2 separate regions of the Homo sapiens genome follow, and region 1 is linked to region 2. A link means that fine-mapping ties the variant in region 2 to the expression of a gene that starts in the linked region. Tissue or cell type: cerebellum. Region 2 holds a variant in brackets; the other region holds the start of a gene. All regions are shown on one strand. Distances are between the middles of the regions.

Region 1 (8,109 bases), 610 kb after region 2:
AAGTTTTCATCCAGGGGTGGGGACAGATGTCCTCATACGGAATGCCTGTGGAAGGGATGGTGGCAGATCGAGGTTTGCCATCTGCTTCCCTTCACGCCTCTGTCCTGCTTGTTCTGCAAGCTGGTCTCATCTGAGCCCAGAGCAGCAGGCTAGTTCACTGACACTCATAGATTTGGCAGGAGCATTTGCTCTTTGAATACATTGATGTCAGGAGGTACACTTCAGATAGGGAAACAGGAAATTACTAGAAGACCTGAACAAGAATGGCAACTTGAAACTGGAACACACAAGGGTACTGGGTGTCTGGAAGCCAACTGAAGTAGAAAGATTTCCAGAGAATGTGGGAAATTACCATCCAAGCCTTCGGCCTTGGCCTCTAGGTCTCCAGTTTACTATAAACAGCAGGTGAAGACTTTCAGTAACTAGAAAGGAAGCCTCATTGACTGGCGATTGAAAATGTCAGGGGTGCAATGAATGCGTGTCTGGTAATCTGCCCAGTGTGTCTTCTCTGGGAAACCTCTGCTCATAAACAGGGATGGGCCCTGGCAGCCATACTGGTCCCCTGCAGCCCCCATCATCTATGATTAGGGTTAGGGTTAGGCAGGTGATTTAGTCCTTGTGGGTGCAGCTCTGGAACATCATTTCTCTGACACTGGGACATAGGAGCCAGGGGCTGGTTATCAGAATAGGAGAATAGAGCACAGGTGTAGAGAGAGCACCTGCTATGGAAAAAAATTCCATTGAGTTCCTCCTGGCTTTTCAGGTCTGCGATCTGGGTCTTCCTGAGGACTAACTTATTTTTGCCTTTGGGTTCTATTATACATCTATCTAATCTATCAATCAACGATCTATTATCTATCTATCAACTATCTATTATCTATCATCTATCTATCAACTATCTATTATCTATCATCTCTCTCTCTCTCTCTATCTATCTATCATCTATTTTAGAGACAGGGTCTTACTCTGTTGCCCAGGCTGGAACGCAGTGGCAAAATCTCTGTTCACTGCAGCCTAGAACTCCTGGCCTCAAGCAATCCTCCCACCTCAGCCTCCCGAGTAGCTAGGACTACAGCTGCACACCACCAAACCTGGCTAATTTTTAAATTTTTTGTAAAGATGTCTTGCTATGTTGCTCAGGCTGGTGTTGATTTCCTGGCCTCAAGTAATCTTTCCACCTTGGCCTCCAAAGTTGTTGAGATTATGGGCATGGGCTACTGTATGCAGCCTCTTCTGTCTATCTAATGAATTTCTGTCCTCTATTAGGGTGAAGAGATAGCTTTTCAGTGGCTTTGAAGCATTGTGCCAAATATTTCAAAGATCACATTTTAAAATCTACTTTTTGATTTATTTAGTTGCTGCAAATTTTGACTTATCTGTCACTAATCAGCTGGATGTACTGAGATACTTTGACATTTCCTAATGTCTGGTGCTTTCTCTTTCTGGCCCTCCATAGTGAGGGCTGGATCTCTTCCCTTATAGGTATCTGCTAATGCTGGAGGCTCAACTGATAAAGTAAAGATAGCCATCCCAAGAAGCAGGCGGAAAGGCTGGGGCTAATAGAACAGATCTCTACTCCAGGGGCTTCAATTCTGCCCTAGTTCTGGTCAAATAGGATTAATACTGCTCACCGTTACTATCCTAAAAGGGCTGTCATGGTTGAAAGTGGGCATTTACTATTTTCAGTGTCTTTTGTTGCTGGAATAAAGGAGATGATAATATGAAACAAAAATCAGGTTGCTTCTCCTCATATTTTGCTCAGCTCCCAAGCATTCAGAATGTCGTTACTAATTAGACATTTGTTTCAACATTCTGGGGCCATCCAGGCTAGGCAATCTTGTGATGTGGGGAAAGTTGACTGGTTATGCAATGGCTTTGCATTAGATCCCCTGCTCCCTTGCAGGCGCTGAATGCTCTTCTGTTGTTCTCTGGATCTAGAACCCTGTCCCTTTTCTCTGGGATGGCTCCTACTGATGTTTCAGCTTATTCCTCATTTGCTGCAGGACAGTCTCCTTGGCCCCATAGTACTCTTGATTTCCCCATCACCTGTGCAGTAATAGTTTCTCTATAGATCCACCAGTCTTGTCTTATTCATTGTTATATCCACAGATCTAACCTATTTCTAGTAAACAGTAGGTTCTTCCTAGATCCATTCCTGATGATTGGCTTAATGAATGAATGCTCATTTTACTGGTGACTCTGAAAAAGGAAAAAAAAAAATAATGATTTTACTCCACTATCAGCAACTCGATGTTGCCCGTCAGGAATCCTTGTAACAAAATACAAAGTTACCATTGCCTACGAGGTCCTCACCTCCTTCTCCAACCTGTCTAGTAGCACTCTCCTTATGCACCATGATACCCATGCTGGCTTTCTCTCTGTTCCTGCTATACATCACTTTTCTTCCTACTTCAAGTCCTTTGTTCTTGCTATTTTATCTGCCCTGGAGTTTTGCTAAGTTGGTGTTTTCTTATTTAGGTGGTGCCTCAAATCTTAGAGCATTTCTCTTAGATCATTTCTCCTTAAAGCATTTTTCTCCTTTCCCAAAATTAAGTGTGTCTCCCATCCCTCTGGTCACTGTTTTCTTCTTTGCCCTGATCCCGGTCTGGAAGTTTATCTTTTTATTGGATCATTGTCCATCTTCTGATAAAAACAGCTGCAAGTCTGTCTTGTTCAAGGCTATACTCTGAGTGCTTAGTAGAAAGCCTCGTTCATTGCAGTATCTAGTATTTGATGATTAATATTGATTACGTTTGATGAGTAAATGAATAAAAGAATAATCTTAGACATACATTATTTAATCCCAGTGAAAGAATGTTAGTGATGGAATTTCAGGTGTTATTGTAGAAGAAACTTTTGAAGGGTATTCCCTACAGTTTGTTCATACTAGGCTAAGTTCCTCTTCTTTTCCTTACACAATGTAAAAATATTAGATCTCAAAACTATTTGCTCAAAGTACTTACTTTAGGACACGTATTTTTAGACTACAGTTTAGAATTACAGTTATTATTAGAAAGGTTTGGTAAAAACTCTTTTTGTTAGGCAATAAGGTTATTCTGTCCTCCAAAGACCTTTACTTTATTCTCAGGAAGTAAGAGAGAAAAAAGAATTTCTTGTCTTCTTTCTATCAGGTGTTTTGCCCTTACTTCTCTTTAAGTTTATGTTTACCTTAACATTCCTTTCCTTCCTCAGGTTTGCTTTTTGTCTATCTCCATTTTTCACTATTACGTAATTCACGGAGTTGCTGGGGGGAAGTGCTTAATTTCAAATAGCCTGTTTTAGAACTTTGCGAGAATGACAAGAACAAACAGAATGTTAAGGCAGCTAGAGAGAGTTAAGTGAGAGTGGTCCCTAGGTGAGAAATGCTTCTTGCCTTCTAGGCTGACACCAGTTCTGGGGGATGTGTTCTGAGAGCTCATATTAACTGCAGGTCATTGATCCTTATCTCAATCCCCTTCCTCTCCCTTCAGCTTTCCATTCAAAGTCTCTATCACATCTTGAAGTGTTGTCACATTATTTTTTTTCTGATGATTCCCTCCATCAGCTGAGCTTTCCAATTTATATTACCTGATTTTTTTTTGTCTTCTGCTTTTTACTACCCCTTTTTCTAAAGCTTTATTGATTGTGTACTTTGGATTCTAATTCTTCCTATAAGAGTCTTCCTGTAATTCTGTTTGCAGTGTAGTGCTGTCCACATTATGTGTTGGTTACATGATAGGAAGGAGTATGGGGGCACCTCGGTCACATATGTAAAGTTCTTTAAGAGAGCTGAAGGGCGCTGATACCAGTTCATGTTTTTTCGGGGTAGCCCTCAGATATTAAGCATGTTTACTGTATTTTCTTCTATTGTGAAAGAATCAGTTCTCTGGATTTCCTTAAAGTTTGTCTTTACCATTCTCCGCACCCTACTCATTTTTCTATTTAAGAATTTTTTTTTCTAATCATGTAGTACATGTTCAATATGGAACACAAAAAGGTAATAAGAAAAAGTCACCTACAGTGTCGCCAAAGGTGAAAACACCTTATGTCTTTTTTCGTGCATAACAATATCCCTCTCAATCTTATGCAGCATTTTTAAACCTAGGAGACTTGTCTGAATCCAAAGGAAGTTAAAGATTACGTTATTCACCAAGTTCATACTGAAATCAGAGAATCGCAGCGGCTTAAGAAAACTCGCATCTGGCGAATGAACCTGCGTATCCGGGGTTCTCCTCAGGGAGGTTGCTCGTCCATGAAACACACTCCAGTCTGCAGCCACCTGGGAGTGGGAACCAAGGGCGAGCGAACCGGGCGGGCAGGGGTGGAACTTGCGGGGACTGCGGGTATGAGGAGGAGCTACAGAGCTGTCACCAATCAGAGCCCAGCTTTGTTTTCTCTTGCCGACCAATGAGGGAGTTCTGCTGGAGAGGCGTCTTCAAGTCTGAGACGCCTATCGCCTTCGCAGCCTATCAGCAGGCCCCTCTTACCCGCGGGCGGTGCAGCCCCGCCCCGCCCCTCCAACCGCGGTCCCGCCCCTCCGAGGGTGGGGGCCGTGTTGGTTACTAGCCGGGCTGGAGGCGGGGGCCGGGCTCCCACTGGGCTCGTGCGTTCTGCGCCCGCCGCGGCGGTGCCGAGCCCGCTGGCTCCCGATTGTCCTCTGCGGCGGTGGCGGTCGCTGCCTCCTTGCCTCCGGGCCCGGGGCTGCAGGGGCCAGAGCGAGTGCGCCTCCTGCCCGCGGACCGCGGCAGCCCAGAGCAGGTAATGGGGCGCCTCTGGGGAGCGCCTGTCGGAGCCCAGGGCTAGGCTCGGGCGGTGGGGTCGGCCCCCGAAGCTGCTCCCTGCGCCGGCGACCGGGCCGAGCGGTGCCGCGGTCCTCCGGAGCCTCCTGCCGGCCTCTAGGCGCCTCAGCCTGGGAGCCCGCGGCGGGCACCTTGTGAGGAGGTGGGGGCGGGGCCGGGGCAGGGGCGGGGCCGCCTCGGGCGGGACCCTGAGGACCCCTGGAGACCCCTGTTGACGCGCGGGACTCCGGGCGGGGGCGGCGGCGGGGCAGACCCAGAGCGGGGAGAACCGACAGGTGGAGGAAAAACTGCGGAGTTGAGTCAGAGTCCGGCTCCCCGGGGAAAAGAACCGACTGAAAGGGAGCGATAAGCTGGCTGGCTTCTTTTTTTTCTTTCCCTAAGCCAGAAAGGCGTCTTCACTTGGGTCGTGTTAATTACATGTTTTCTGAGAACAGGCGTTTGGCCGTGTAATCTACACGATAGCATTATTTATTTACTTATTTGCTATTTAAAAAATTAAAAGCAGCATTTAGCGTGAATCTATTTGGGGGCTTTTTCTTAAGTGACAGGTAGACCCAGCCGAGTAACTCAGCTTTGTCTGGGCTGAAGTGGGGAGCGGTGAGGTAGGAATGAGGGGGAGGAGTGTTCGTGAGGAATGCCTGTGCAGGTTTGAAAGGATTGTGGGGGTGGGACCTTGTTTCTGTCACTGTGCCATGGGTGGGAGTAGAATTGTGATTTTTTTCTTTTTCTAATTTTTAAAAGCAATATTCACATTTAAAAAAGGGGGGGCTCTCTAAAAACAGTCTCTGTACTCGAGGCTTTGGGGATGCACCTGCTAGTCAGGCAGTAATAGTTTGCAGGTAAATCCTGGGCTATTAATTACGTAATTTGATTTACTTATAAAGAAGTATCTTGAATTGTTGCTGCCTTTCCTTTGACTTGCTCAATATATTGCTTGTTTACAAGTGAATTGATGAAGGTCACTGAGTTTTAGCGGTAATGTCACAGCGATGGCCCTTGGAGAGTTTTCTATGCTCAGGTTCACTCTGGTTCTATAAAAACAGTATTTCCATTTAATCGTGAAGCTCATAGCACTCTATCAATTATATAGTATGCCATCCTCCTACTCTTCTGAGGCAGGCTGTGCATAGCATGTCCATTTTACAGGTATGTCAACTGAAAGCCCTAGAAATGAAAGGAATCCTGCCCCACTTTACTCCTACTTTATTTTATACCTATAATGGATTTAATCCAAAATCTGGGTAAGATTCCCGCCATCAAGCCAACTTCTGCATACCAATTTGATCCCGTATACACAGGTCAGAGGTGGAGATGGTTATTTTCAAGTAAAGAAATATTATCTGCGAGGTTTTTCTTTCCATTCAGGTTGCTTAGCTAGTTTGAATTTCAGGTGAAAGGTAATTTTCCACACAGGCAAAACAAACAAAAGTTAGGAATGCTGTGTGAAAATCTCTATTTTAAATTTTGGGAAGCTTTCCAAATTAGAGAACCTTATTTGTGTTTGCATCTCTAGCTCAGCATTGAATTTCGGTACCTTTTTTTGAATTGAATAGAAATAATTGATATGCAGAAGGAAAATACTAATGAAGTGTAATGCATTTTGATCATGACTTATGACTTTGTTTCGGGAAGTGTTTACTGTAAATTTATAGACGGATTGAAGAATAATTTCTTAATTAGAATAACTTGACCAAAGGAGTTTGGGCATTAGTGTGGGACAGGCTGAAATGGGTAGTTGGGAGTAGCCGCTTGTATGATGTTAAGGCTTAGGGAATTCTAGAGAATCGTTAGGTTTTGTTAAATTTACTAGTTATCAGGAACATGAAAATGTCTTATGGATTACTGAATGGAACTCTTTTTTTTTTTTTTTCTGAGGTGGAGTCTCACTCTGTTGTCCAGGCTGGAGTGCTGTGGCTCACTGTGATCTCTGCCTCCCTGGTTCAAGTGATTCTCCTGCCTCAGCCTCTTGAGTAGCTGGGACTACAGGCGCATGCCACCACGCCCAGCTATTTTTTTTTTTTTAATATTTTTGTAGAGATGGGGTTTCACTATGTTGGCCAGGCTGGTCTCGAACTCCTGACCTCAAGTGATCTGCCTGCCTTGGCCTCCCAAAGTGCTGGGATTACAGGCGTGAGCCATTGCACCCAGCCTGAATGTAACTGTTCTAATCATGAAGTTATCTCTTGTTTTGTGGCTAATACCTCTGTTTCACATGTACATTTTAACATATTCATGTAACATATAAGGCAACTCTTCTTACACAAGGCTGTCACTCTAGCCCAGCATTTATTTACTTATTTATGTTTTAGTGGCTTTATTTAACTTTTACTCTCCTGTCAAAATTTCTAGCACCCAAGCAAAAATTTCCATAAAGGAACTTTTATCATCTGTTGATTATACAGAAAATGAATCATTTATTCTCATAAGCCCAGCCCTCTTGCATTGTGGGACACTGGAAAGATATTTTGGCTGTTTGTAAAGTATTTGCTTGTATTCTTACCTGAAGCTTTGACTTCTCCCCCTCCCCCAATGGTTTTCAGAGTTTCTGTGACTTTTTTCTTTAAATTAATTATGACACTACCTGACTTCCACTAGATGGTGCACTGGGGGGCGCTTACTGGAGATTTCAAACAGATTTTTGTTTTTCCTTGTTATAAACATTTCACTGACAAAGATACAAAGGTACTGCAGCTGTTTCTCTCCTAATTGCAATTCAGACAAAATTGTAATGAATGACTTAAGTCTTGAGTTTTGGCCAGGCATGGTGGCTCACGCCTGTAATCCCAGCACTTTGGGAGGCCGAGGCGGGCGGATCACAAGGTCAGGAGATTGAGACCATCCTGGCTAACACGGTGAAACCCTGTCTCTACTAAAAAATAGAAAAAATTAGCCGGGCGTGGTGGTGGGCGCCTGTAATCCCAGCTACTCGGGAGGCTGAGGCAGGAGAATTGGCCTGAACCCAAGAGGCAGAGCTTGCAGTAAGCTGAGATCGTGCCACTGCACTCCAGCCTGGGCCACAGAGCGAGACTCCGTCTCAAAAAAAAAAAAAAAAAGTCTTGAATTTTGTTAAATGAGATACATTCGGAAGGAAAGGGTATTCCTTCATTTTGAATTTAAAGTGAAGGAAATTGTTAGTCAGGCTTGCTCTCTGAAGATACTGTGTTTTTTACAAACTGAAGGTTCGTTGGCAACCCTGCAAGTCGATTGGTGCTATTTTTCCAATAGTGTATGTTCATTTTGTGTGTCTCTGTCATATTTTGGTAATTCTCACAATATTGCAAACTTTTCATTGTTATTCTGTCTGTTATGGTGATCTCTGGTCAGTGATCTT
Region 2 (8,109 bases):
AGTGGTATTTTTCCATGACTCTCGCCATGGGAGCTGATTAAAACAGAAGCACTCAGAATTAGCCCAGCAGTCCAAGCCAGCATCCAAACTATTTATTCCCTCTCTCCCACCCCCACCGTTTCAAGTGCCAGTCATAATTGTTATTTGATATAATGGCTCCTCAACCTACAGCTCTCACCCAACCCAAAAAGAGTTTGGTGGCTTAAGGTTTCGACCAAAGCTCCATTTCATCCTGTATAAAAGTGACTTGGAAATCCTTTTTATCCTCGATTTCTGACAAGAAAATCCAGCTAACAAGGTCATCTGAGATGCCACCAAAACAATATGCAAGGCTGGGTATGGTGGCTGATGCCTGTAATTCCAGCATTTGGGAAAGCTGAGGTAGGAGGATTGGTTGAGCTCAGTTCAAGACTAGCCTGAGCAACATAGCAAGACTCCATCTCTACAAAAAGTAGAAAAATTAGCTGAACGTGCTGGCAGCTGGTTTTTAGCATTTACAGGCCCAGCTACTCAGGAGGCTGAGGCAGGAGGATCACCTGAGCCCAGGAAGTCAGGGCTGCAGTGAGCTATAATTGCACCACTGCACTCCAGCGTGGGTGACAGACAAAGACCTTATCTCTTATAGTAAAATTAAAATATATATATATACACTATGTATCTCTTATAATAAAATTCAAAAAATATATATATATTTGCTTTATTGACTACTGCGTTCCAAGCTCTGCTGGGAGTAACTGGAGGCAAATTTTAATGCAACCCAAAGTCCCAATGCTTTATACTTGAGGATGCCTTCTCCAGTGCTTGCTGAGGAGACCTGTGAATCAGGAAAATGGCACCAGCATGCACAATCCCAAACTAAGACACTTCTGAAGATGCCAGGCCCAAAGCCATAAACATGGACCACCTTTGGTACCAAGTCATCCAGTCTTTCTTGGCATAAGCAAATGATGAGGCTTTGAATACAACTGAGCTGGCCATAAATGCTGGCTCTGCCAATGTCTAGTGATATGGACTTTGACAGTTGATTTAATACTGCTCGGAGCATCTGTGAAATGGTGACAATAATCCCTGTCCCTGTGGAGTTGTATGCAGATGAAAGGAAAGAGGATGTGAAGAGCTGCCACACAGTAGGCAAGCAGCGCTAGTTCTCCTTGCTTTCCTGTTTCACTTACTCATCATTAGACATCTGGGACAAGCAGTGACTTCTGCTGTCTTGAAGTTCACTTACTATTAATTCAAACAAGACTTCCTGACTGCAGTCTGCCCTCATTACTGGCAATGTCCTGCCTGATCTCTAAGGCAACAATCACTCATTTTGTAAATACAACCTTCTCATCTATTAGAAATTAATGAAAATTCCATGAAAACGATTTTCAGGCACTGTAGTGACATGAAACTTCAGGAACTCATTACCTTAAATGTCTCACCCAAGGAGTTGAAATATTTCAAAATCCACATGCATATAATATTAATGCAAGAGTGTATAATACGCATAGTCTTCTCCAGGGCAAGTAAGCTTTTAAAATATACTACCCCTAACTTTGTTAGAGTTTTCTTACTTGACAAGTTATTCTCTTTGCTTATTACTTTCTACCCGTGTCTTTTATCACTACTCTAGAAAAATCAAGAACAAACTATATTGGGTTGAACCCTATGAAATTCCTTATATTTGGTCATTTTTGACCTATGGGAATGACAATCTCATAAAGGTTTAACCTGCTAGAGCCAGGCCAAGGATAAAGGAAATCAGAGCAGTTCCTGAGAAAATGTGGTTGGGCTGCTCCCCTGCCCAAGGAGACCTTCGCTTTCCAAACACAAGGTCATCACATCATTGGTGATGTCTGCATTGGTTAGGTTGGGTAAACTTGACATTATTATTTGGGTTCTCTCTCCCCACTGGTAGGGCAGGTGCTAACTGAACAGATGAGTAATTATGACTGCAATAAAAGTCACTGTTGGAGGGGGTAAAACCATTATCTCCACACCCAGACTGAGGACAGCTCGCTTGGTTTGCACAGTTCTTACAACCCACAACACTGTGGGTGCCATACCCTCTTGGGGAGTTGCCATCGCATTCCGAAGCTAATGACATTAATCATTAGCCAACTCAGAAAGGTTAATGGGCGGCTCGAGGGAGAGGAATGTTTTTATGGAGTTGATGTTCCTGGGAATTGGATCAGAAGAGCATAAGGGGGCCCTGGATGGGACATGAGCATTAACAAGTCCCTCCACCCACCTCATCCCACACAGCAGGACTCTTTAGGCTCAGCAAAGTGCTTCATCCAACACTTCATGAATGAGCCAGAGGACGGGAACCAGGCACGATTCCAGATCCAGCTTCATAATCCCTTCCCAGAATATAGTTTTCTCAAAGAGTGTCTTGTAAATTAAAAATGTGTTTGCATTATTTTTATTTATTTATGTATGTATTTATTTATCGAAGACAGGGTCTTGCAATGTCACTCAGGCTGGAGTGTTGTGGTGTAATCATAGCTCACTACAGCCCTGACCTCCTGGGCTCAAGTGATCCCATCTCAGCTTCCCAAGTAGCTGGAACCACAGGCGTGCATTACCACGCCTGGCTAATTTTTCTACTTTTTGTAGAGAAAGGGTCTCACTCTGTTGCCTGGGTCAGTCTCGCACTCCTGGGCTCAAGCAATCCTCCCACCTCGGCCTCCCAAAGTGCTGGGATTACAGGTGTAAGCCACCATACTGGCAGATTTGAGAAATCTTTAACTCACCAATGGATTAGCTGTTGGGGAGTGAGGAATATCAAGGTCAGAGTAAGAGGGATTATAGCAGAGAAAATCAAACCACTGGCTGAAAACTAAACATTTCAGTTACATTGTGATTATTTCACCTACGTACATAATGAGAACCTCTAAAGACATGTAAAATATGGAATTGTTTCAACTTTTAAGTTTGCTTTTTAAAAAATGGAAGGTATCTTATAGACATAGTAATGCTTTGCACTTATCCCAGTTAGAACTAGTAAGTCCCCAGACCTCACTCACCTGTAATTACCAAAAAGATCGTGGGGCTTCGAGGTGGGGAGAGGAGTTGTTTTGTTTTTTTGAGACAGGGTCTTGCTCTATTGCCCGGCTGGTGTGCAGTGGTATAATCATAGCTCACTGCACTGCAGCCTTGAACTCCTGGGCTCAAGCAATCCTCCTTTTTTCAGCCTCACGTGTAGCTGTGACTACATGCGAGCCACCACTCCTGGTTCATTTTAAAAACAATTTTTTATGTAAAAACTGAGTCTTACCATGTGGCCCAGGCTGGTCTCAAACTCCTGGGCTCAAGCAATCCTCCTGCCTCAGCCTCCCAAAGTGCTGGGATTACAGCTGTGAGCTACTGTACCCAGCCTGTGTTTTCTTATTATCCAAATAATCATGACTTTGAGGCCCAATTCCATAACTCAAGAAAGTTATTCTTCTCCCTGCTTCTCCTTCATGAACATGTTGGAGAATTCTGGAGAGATGCTGGATGTGCCGCCCACCCATCCCAGTAGTCACTCATCCCTCCAGCCACCCTGACTCCAAGGCCGGTGCTGCAAAGCCCTGCAAGGAAATTCCCTTGAACAGGCTCAACACTGGCTTCCTCAGGCTGCTCGGCCATCCCCATGCAAGACACTCCAAGTGCAGACACAAGCTCTGCCTGTACTTCCACAATGCACAGAGAGGAGCAGCCCAACTGTTTAATAAAACTGTACTGAAGGCATGGGGCTGACACAATTACAACTCCGAGAAACATTCCCATGCTTATCAAAAGGGGTTCCTCTAGAGGGTCC[C/T]GGCTCTGAACGCCAGCCTTGGGCCTTTGGCCTAGCTCCTGGCTACCTTTTGCCTGGCTAAGCCAAGTCAGCCTCCTCTCCACCAGGCTCCAGGTCTCTTTCCCACCTCCGAATCCAGCTGGAGCCTCTCAGTCCCAGAACTAAGTGGCAGCCTTGCTCATTCCCATCCCAAGATGACTGGGAGCTTCTCCTTCCTAAAAGGGGGACCCTTCAACCACCCACCAGCTGCAATGCAGCCTCCTTGGCCCCAAACACCAGCCCCAATCACCAGTGATTCATTTCCATCTGCTGGTCTTCATAACACCACGCCTGGTGCTGTCGCCCAGATAGCCAGGGTCAAACCTGATTCCATTTCTTTTTATTTTATTTTATTTTATTTTATTTTATTTTATTTTATTTTATTTTATTTTATTTTTTGAGACAGAGTTTCACTCTTGTTGCCCAGGCTGGAGTGCAATGGCATGATCTCAGCTCACTGCAACCTCCGCCTCCTGGGTTCAAGCGATTCTCCTGCCTCAGTCTCCCAAGTAGCTGGGACTACAGGCCCCCACCACAATGCCCAGCTGATTGTTTTTGTATTTTTAGTAGAGACGGGGTTTTGCCATATTGGCCTGTCTGGACTTGAACTTCTGACCTCAAGTGATCCGCCTTTCGCGGCCTCCTAAAGTGCTGGGATTACAGGCATGAGCCACTGTGCCCGGGCAAACCTGATTCAATTTCCTTTCCCAGTCTTTCATCCAGTGTGGAGTAAAGAGAGGGTCGAGATACTTTCTGGGTTAGCTCAGGGTTTGCACTGTCCTAAAACAAATATAATCAGACAAATAGACAAAATATACATGCATTTATACATACAAACAGATATGTACACACATGTGCATGCACACACACACACACACACACACCTTCCCAAGACAGTTTCAGAGACAGTCACTAAAATCTAAATCCATATTCAAAGATGCAGCAAGGACAATGTCCCACTAAAAATGGACTCTATTTATGTTAAACAGAACACATTACTTCTCAGCCTACATTTAAAGTAACATTGAGGATGACGCTCATTACACAAATTATTGTTCTTGGACAAACTGAAGTGTTTATTCTGCTAACTTTTCCCAAAACAAAGGAAGTCACAATCGTGAATTGGTTGCTCAGCCTCTCGTAACTATGAGTAACTTTTAAGGAACAGTTCTACTGCTTTAAAAAATATTTTTCCACTGGGCATCACTACACAATGATGCAGTCATAGCTCAAAATATTTTGGAAATTCCTCCTTTGGAATTGCCTCCAGAGCCAAGAGCACATTCCTTTAGAATAGTCTCAATGGTTATAAACCTTTATACCAAGAAGAAGGTGTATTTGATTCTTAAAATAAACCAAAAATTATTTTAAAATGGAGCTGGTGAATGTAGGTGACCAAATTGGGTGACACTGCTTTGGTATACAAAATGTGGCCCTAAAACATTAGGCAAGTTTTCCTGTGCGAGTCATAAATTATCTGTGAAGGCCATTCACTAAACACACTTTAAAAATTTTTTAACGCAATACATTTTTACTCTGTACCAATCCTTGATGGGGCACAAACCCCGAAAACAACTAATTTCAATGTTAAATGGAAATATTTACAATAGTAGTATGTATGAAACCTCAAGCATCTCAGAAGAGCGGTGCACAGGAGGAGAAGAAGGGTTGGGAAGGGTCTCAGAAAAGGCTTAAGAAACATATGTCATAATAATTAGAGTTTTCGCCATGGCCATCTTGAAGGCCACAGCATTTATTTAGATATATTCATTCAGATATATTTGTTGAAGCCGTTACTCCATTGCTTTATAATCATGCTTCAGAATAAAGGAGCATGAACTTCATTTCACCCCCAGAGTTATTGTAGCAGGACCCAACAAGACATTAATTTTGCCCGTGGTTTTTGACCTTTTTTTGCTTCCTAACACACTTTCAGTTATGATCTTGGGCTTTCTTTGAGCAAAAACCTCTTGGATTCCATACACCATCGTTATTTAGGAAATCCCTTATGACTTCCAAAACATTCACATGTTTTTCCCGGAATAACATTGCACACATTTATATGCGATCACGTTTTCCTGCCCCATGTATGTTTATGAACCCCAGAGCATGTTGCTTAAGGCCAGCCCTTACCGTGTAGTGATATTGCAGCAGCTGCTGAACAGCACCCTGCTATTACAGCCCTGCATCCTGGTGAGGAAGGGAAGAACCCCAAGGATGGGCTGGGGACGTGGAGGCACACAGGCAAAGTGGGGTTCCTCCAGATGGCGTTCCATCCCAGCTCTATGACTGCCTGAGTAAAGAGTGCCTTGGGGCTTTGGGTGGCAGGTTTTACTAGTCAGGCCTCCATTTATATCTCCCCTAAAAGCCTGAAACACCAATGGCTCCTCTTGAGTTTCTCAGTCACAGTGGAGAGTGGCTCCAAGGCCCTTTCCCAGGAAAATTCAGAAGGGGTAATGACCTCAGAGTTTTCACCTGTGGCACCGGCCTGAGTTTCTCATGAGGCACCGGACTGTCATTTCTCATCAAAATCGTCTCTTGAACTTCTAAAGTAAACACCAGGAGGAAAAGGAATGAAATGGCTTTGCAACTGTGGAAATTGTACTATGTCCGGTCTACAGGGTGAAATGAGTTGCTATTTCACTAGGCCAGGTACCTATACCCTTATGAATCAAACAGCAAAAGAGGTGAAAAGGAACTTTAGCCACGTCTAAATTTCACCTAGACCCACTGTTTTATACTTTTCTTTGACTTGCTCTATAAATATTTTACTACAACTTTCAAAGTTTATAGGGTCCTTAAGACTTGTAAAAGGGTTGAGTAACTAGAAACCAATGACTGATACCTACCACAGGGATCTTGATTTTTTTTCTTCTTCTTCTTAAGATTCCATGGAACAGATTTCATTCTACCCAGGATTCCTTGAAAGGTGGCTTGAAACTCATCTCTCAATTGAAGTCATGAATCTGCAGGGGACAAAGAAAAATGGCATCCACATATCAACTCTAATTGATTTGGGGGCACTCTCCAGAGAGTCAGGAATCTGGTTTAGGTCCCAGACCTATAGCTTCCAGGGCTCAGACTCCTCAGAAGCTAAGGGTATGTGCCCCGATGACCTGGATCCCTGGTGCTGGCATCACATCCAGATTCCCCAAAGCAGAGAGGGCCCAGTCACCTGGTCCTACTGCATTCTGGGAATGACAGACATGCCACTGGTTTTAAAAGGATGTATTTCCAATGGACCCTTCACCAAGTTGCAAATTTTAATTGTATAATAGAGAAATATGCATGAGTGTCTTCTGGTTTCCAGCGACTTGAGTTTTGTTGGTTATTGAACTAATTATCCTGATTCCTAAATCCCATAAAAGTACATAGGACTATAGTTATCAGTCTAGGCAAAATTAATTCACTTGTACATTTGGATACATTTGTTCTAATGACTGAATCGTGTATCTCTTTTCTTCAAAAATACAGAGTTTGGCCAGTGCACGGCAGCTCACACCTGTAATCCTGGCACTTTAGGAGGCTGAACTGAGAGGATCACTTGTGTCAAGGTGTTCCAGACCAGCCTGGGCAACATATCAAGACCTCGTCTCTGCAAAACGTTTTAAACTTAGCTGGGCATGGTGGCACACACTTGTAGTCTTATCTACTCTAGAGGCTAAGGCTGGAGGAACAGTTGAGCCCAGGAGGTTGAGGCTGCAATGAGCTATGATACCCCAATATGATTGCCCCACTGGGTGACAGAATGAAAGTCTGTCTAAAAAATTTTTTAGAAATAAGAATAATACAGGTTTATAGATCAAAATGTGGCTCCTGAAATATTAGTTTTGAGCTTCAATTCAATAAGAAAGCCATCGTATTAGTCCATTCTCGCACTGCTATAAAGAAGTACCTGAGACTGTGTAATTTATAAAGGAAAGAGGTTTGATTGACTCACAGTTCCAAAAGGCTGGGGAGGCCTCAGGAAACTTACAATCATGGTGGAAGGTGAAGGGAAAGCAAGGACCTTCTTCACATGGCAGCAGGAGAGAGAAGTCCAAGCTGAGGAGATGCCATATGCTTATAAAACCATCAGATCTCGTGAAGAGTCACTCCTGTCATAAGAACAGCATGGGGAAAACCACCCCCATGATCCAATCACCTCCTACCAGACCCCGCCCTCCACACATGGGGATTATGGGAATTACAATTCTAGATGAGATTTGGGTGGGGACACGGGGCCAAACTATATCAGCCATACAGGAAGGGAGCGTGAGAAGCTGAAGGTTATGGTTCTTATGCTTTCTAAGTGTCTTCCA

The links. PIP is the estimated chance that this variant, and not a neighbour inherited with it, causes the effect.
Region 1: it holds the start of MPP7, and the variant in region 2 is fine-mapped to the expression of MPP7 in cerebellum (GTEx, PIP 0.97).

What each region holds. Positions count from the first base shown.
Region 1 is chr10:28,299,489-28,307,597 of GRCh38, reverse strand. MPP7 (MAGUK p55 scaffold protein 7) reads left to right here and starts at 4,534. Exons shown (of 17, transcript NM_001318170.2): 1 at 4,534-4,737. MPP7-DT (MPP7 divergent transcript) reads right to left here and starts at 4,429. Exons shown (of 2, transcript XR_930772.3): 1 at 3,169-4,429; 2 at 1,327-2,199. RefSeq lists a silencer at 4,348-4,987.
Region 2 is chr10:28,908,029-28,916,137 of GRCh38, reverse strand. No RefSeq gene overlaps it. Among named protein-coding and RNA genes, the nearest start is that of C10orf126, 66 kb to the right of the region's middle. The variant C/T (reference allele first, on the strand shown) is at 3,791.